Regions from separate parts of the Homo sapiens genome. Here region 2 is linked to region 1. The links come from fine-mapping of genetic effects on gene expression. Tissue or cell type: B cells. Region 1 holds a variant in brackets; the other region holds the start of a gene. All regions are shown on one strand. Distances are from middle to middle.

What was found. PIP is the estimated chance that this variant, and not a neighbour inherited with it, causes the effect.
Region 2: it holds the start of LINC01522, and the variant in region 1 is fine-mapped to the expression of LINC01522 in B cells (Schmiedel 2018, PIP 0.95).

What each region holds. Positions count from the first base shown.
Region 1 is chr20:48,369,898-48,372,581 of GRCh38, forward strand. It overlaps LINC00494 (long intergenic non-protein coding RNA 494), which reads left to right. Exons shown (of 5, transcript NR_026958.1): 5 at 1-741. Among named protein-coding and RNA genes, the nearest start is that of LINC00494, 11 kb to the left of the region's middle. The variant A/AGT (reference allele first, on the strand shown) is at 1,180.
Region 2 is chr20:47,988,681-47,991,364 of GRCh38, forward strand. It overlaps LINC01522 (long intergenic non-protein coding RNA 1522), which reads right to left and starts at 1,437. Exons shown (of 3, transcript NR_110027.1): 1 at 1,335-1,437; 2 at 1-62. The region is part of intron 1 of LOC107985436 (a long non-coding RNA gene); the gene reads left to right.

The sequences.
Region 1 (2,684 bases):
CCTCCTTCCTATTGTAATTTTTTCTTCCCACCTTTTTTATTGTTACTAGAGAAATGATGAAGAAAAAGAATAGGCTGGAGAGTCACTCAAAATTTTGTTTTCCTCAATTAAAAAGAAGTAATTTAGAAGTTACTCAATGATGTTTTCTTTAATTAAAAAAAAAAGTAGTTTGGGAAAGCAGAAAATTAATGAAGACAGAAAACACAGGTTTCATGAAAAAGTTCAGCATCCCAGGAAAGGAGCAAAGAGAAGTCTGCAGATGAGAGTTGCTCAGTGTCAGGACTCAGAAAACAATACCCCAAGATAATGTTCAAACCTGAGTGCTTTGAACAAAGGATATTGAAAGACCTCAGAAGAGGGCCTCAGAACTCACATGTCTCTCTGACCTTCTCCTGTCTCTCCTTCACTTCCAAAGCATGATCTTTGGCCAGGGGATCTCTCTGGGATTCCCTTATCTGCCTGAGGGATGTACTTCCAAAAGAAATGTGACTGGCATGACCTCCTCCCTAGGAATCTCTTCAAACAGCCGGGAAAGACTGGTCACCTGAGAGGAGATTGGAAGTCCTCACTGCACTCAGAAAGGCTGTTGTCCATTCTTCTAGAGACTTTATCTGAATAACAAGGCAACTTTTGTTTACCATTCAGTTCCTCCCCTTTCCTTTCTAACTTGTCACCACCTCCCCCAAAAGCCTCAAGCCTCCACTCCTACAAGCTATAAAGACTTCAACCATCTGGCTTCTCCATGAGTCTCATGTTTTGTGTGGCTCTTAGGCATATGTGCATGGTAATACATGTGTATGCCTTTCCTCCGGGTAATCTGTTTATTGTCAGTTTAAAGCAGCCACAGAGTTAAAGACGGAAGCCTTCAGAAGGCTTTCCCTTTGCCCCTGCATCCATCACCTGAGAGCCCACCCATGACAGACTTGAACTATGGACAGAGGCTGCAGTCAATAGAGCCCAGGGTGAGACTGACTACAGGAGAAGCTGGGCCTTGGGGGATAAGCCCAAGCTTCTCAATTCTCAAACTGCAGGTTAAGCCTCTATAATGGAGCCTGAATTCCATTCAGTGAGTCTTGACCAGCATTTTAAAATGTGAAATAACAGAACTCAGTAGAAAATATCAAAGGGCATTACTTATAGTGAGGTAAGAATATTCTGCGAAATTTTAGTTTTATATTG[A/AGT]GTGTGTGTGTGTGTGTGTGCACGCGCACGCCAGGCCTTGTTGTAAAATATACTTCTTATAATGGGTTGTGTTCAAAACAGCTTGTAAAATATGGGAGCAGATGAAATGATGGAGGATTTGGTAAGAACTAAATATTTGTAAGCAAATTTTGCAGTGAAAAGAACAAGGAAATTATTAATTCAAGAGAAATCAAAAGTAGTATAAGAAAGAAAATGCAACCATATTGCCATACTTGGCTCTGCTGTAAATAACATCTACTTGGCCACATGACATAAATGCTGATTATGATGATGTCATTGAAAACGGTAATTTAGCCATGCAGGAGGCTGTGAGTTATGGTGGCAAGTGGAGGAAGAGAGCTAATCCCTCCTCTGGGGGCCGGCATTGAGAGATCACAGAGCAACTTGAATCCCCGTGAAGCACTTGCTCTTACAAGATTTGGAAGAAACTTGCACAAACAGTAAAGTGTCTTTACTTGTGGATGTCTCTGGGAAAAGATGGGCAGGGAACAGAAAGATTCAACGGTGTTTGATTTGGTGACCATATATCTCTTTAATTTAAAAAGGGATCATTCAGGACCAGTGAGGCCATGGTGGTGTTCATTGGAAAGAGCCCAGGGACCCAGGTGGCTCTTGGCTCCATCACCTAGAACCCCATGCCCTTGAACGAGTCCCTCTCCAGCTTTTGACACCAGTTGGCCAACCTCTAAAACAAAGAGGCCAGGCCAAATTATTTTGACTTGTCCTTGGAGCCCTGTGAGTCTGTCTCACCACGGAGTGACTTGGGAGTCTGGGTACCACCCACCCTGACTCCATGTCAAATACCGTGCACATCTCAAGCACAGTGCCTGGCTCAGCACAGGCAGCAGGAAAGCTGTGTGGGTGTGCATCAGGGTTGGTGGACACAGTAGACAGCCTTTGCTCTCCCAAGATGGGGGAGGTCCGGTACCATGACTTAGGGAACTGCTGGTTCCTAACCAACCCCCCCACCCACCCCGGACAGTAGTGCAGAAAGGATGCTTTCCTAATCAGCTAATTTTCACAAAATGTGGGATGCCCTGGTGGGATCCCGTGGTAGGAGAGTAGATGACTTCCAGGAGCACATAGAGGGGGCAGAGGCTGCGGGCTGACCCTTGATACCCCTCATCCCCTTCATTTAACATTAGAAATCCCAAAGTTTAGTTGCCTGGACCGGAACTGAATTTCCCATCCTGCCTTGCAGCTGGTGTGTACCTTCCCAGTGTACCCTTAAATGCATGAGTACGCCCCACTTACCCTTTTCCTCTTCCCTCCTGCCTGATGTGACTTGCACCTCCTTGGACCAGGTGGACAAGAAAAGCCTCCGTCAATGACAGAGCCCAAGATGGGCAGGTCGAGGATCAGCCCCGGGAGCCGCCCAACTAGCTCGCCCCTCGCCCCCGCCCCCCAGCCCCCACAATCCCCCGATGGCGAGGCTGTCATGTGGGAGAAAAGCAAACCTCTGGTTCATGAAATTGCAGGTATTT
Region 2 (2,684 bases), 380 kb before region 1:
TGGGATTCTCTGGTCTTCGCCTTGGGGTTTCCGGTGGTTGTTGTGGCTCCAGCATCACCAGCCTGTGTCCAGAACAGAGGAAGGGAAGGAGAGCTGGGAGATTTTTCTCCTGTGTGGCTTGGGAAGGCTTTCCCGGAAGCCTCTAGTAGATGTCTCTTAGGTCCCATTAGCTATTAATAGAACTGGATGACAGGCCTACTCGCAAACCAATCACAAGCAAAGGGGAGAGGATTACTGTGATTGGCTTTGAACCACTGACCAATCACTTTGCTCTGCTTAGGGCTGAGGCAGGGCCACCTTCCTTCAGCACATTGTTTTCTACTGGAGGGGTGAACAAAAGTGTGGCTCTGTTACCAAGGAAGAAAGGAAAGTGGTTGCTCAGTGTCTGCTGTGAACCTGGCTGTCCCTATGTGTCCTCTCTCCTCTGTGTATGTGTGTGTGTGTGTGTGTGTGTGTGTGTCTTGCAAACATCAGTGCACAACACACCACAGTCCCATAATTCAGTGGAGTGTGTATCTGCTCGGCAGACTCCACTGTCCCCACAGTCAGGGTCCAGGCACTAGAAGGTATGTGGCAGGAAGGTAGAGGAAGACCCAAGCCACAGACCCCCATCCAACTTCGAGTGCAAGCAATGGAAACCGACTCTGGATTCCTTGATTTAATTTTTTGAAGACATTTATAGGAAGAAATGGGTTAAGTCTGTAGGAAAATTAAATATGAAGAGCCAGATTCACGGGGCTTGGGGACATCAGGGCAGCTCCTGGGTCCTCTGTGTGGCCATCATGGTGAATCCACTCATGTGTCACTGTTCACCATTCAGGTCCCCACAGGAGGACAGGATGGTCCTGTCTTGGCCACATGTTACCCCCTGGACTCAGGGACAGTGTTGTCATTTGACTGAAAGTCCCTCCTCACCACAAGGACAGGGATGGGGAGTTTCTCAGCGGAAGCCCAAGGATTTGCTTAGGCCTGGAGAGCAAACCCCACACGCCCTCCACACATCACCTGCACAGACGCCCCTCCAGCTGAGCCAGCCTGCTCACTACCCCTCAGACAGTCTTCCCTCCCATCCTTGCTTGTGCTGGGACCCCTCCTGGAAGGCTCCCCTCTCCTGCCTGCTCTTCTAACTTTCATGATCCTTCAAGACTCTAGTTAAGCCACCCTCCTCCTCCAACAAGCACCAGCCATTGCTGCTGCTGTGTCGAGGTTTCTGAACCTCAGCATTATTGACATTTTGGGCTGGGCAGTCTCTGTTGTGGGACTGTCCTGCACATTGTACAGGATGCTTACAGCATCTCTGGCCTCTACCCAGTAAATGCCAGTTACACCTTTACCTAGTCGTGACAACCAAAACTGTGTCCAGACATTAGCAAGTGTTCCCCGGAGGGGACAACTGCCCCTGGTTGAGAGCCACTCCTTTTCTGAACCTGAGTCACTAAGATTTACTGCCATAGCAACTTAATTACATTGTGATGTTTACTTAACTTCTCACTGCTGCTTATTACTTTGGCAGACTGCAGCCAGCCAGAGAACAGCCAGGTTAACCCATACGGTGGCCCCACACTAAGTTGTCTCCCACACCGTGTAGGGATGGCTCAGTGCACAGGGAGCATGGTGGGGTTTGGGCTTGATGGCTTTGAAGCCTCTGCTAGACTGGGAGGCACACAGTTTGGTACCATGTCTGGATGCAACGTCATGTTCCTGAGGCAGGATGGTGCTTGTGTACCGAAGACAGTCTTGCTGGCTGCGGTGAAGGACAGAGCTCTCGGTGGATCCAGTGGGAACCAAAGCCTGCTGTAACCCTCCAATAGTAACAGCCATCCGCTCAACCTCTGGGCCCAGGCACGCCTCACAGGAGCTCTCTACGGGCACTGTCTCATCCATAATGAATTAGGTATCAGTGTCTGGTTTTTAGAGATTCGGAAACTGAGGCCAGAGCATTCTAATGTCCTAAGCACATTCATGGTGAGTAGGAGCAGAGCTGGCTTCCACCTGCAGGGTCTGAGTCTAGGGTCAGTGCTCATAGCCACGATTCTCGTAGGCTACCCAGGCCCACTGTCTCCTTGAGCACCCATGTGCCCCATGCAGCATGTAACTTGTAGGAAATGAAGGCGTTTGCCAGCCTTTGCCTGTGTCCAGTGTGAACTCATCTCCTATTTAGCACAAAGTTATTACATTAGAGTTACTGATTTAGTGGATACATCACTTTACTCTGTCATCTTGACAGCGATAAGATCTGCATTTTGCTCACTTCTGGATCACGCAATCTAGCAGAATTCTTCATGCATGGCAGGAACTCATCATTATTTGCCTCATTTAATTGAATTGTATTATGGTTCTGTGGACACTTCATCACACCTAACAGTGTTTTGCACAAAGCAATTGTTAAAAAATACTTTTCAAAGGGCTAAATGTTTGATCAATCAATAGGTTTTTAATTGAGCATCCTTACAAGTTAATATCATAAAGTGATGATAAAAGTGTTTTTATTACTGTGTGTTGGTTACCCGGATTAAATGTTTCTTGAAGCCTCAGAGTGCATGATGATTCAGTTCTTCTGATTTTAAGCTCGGATCTATTCAGTGACGAGATATGCAGGTCTGGAAGCCTCTGAAATTTATAATGTGGATGCTGAGAACCCATGATGCTGGTGGCCAATTTTGAAAATTGTTACAGAAATTTAT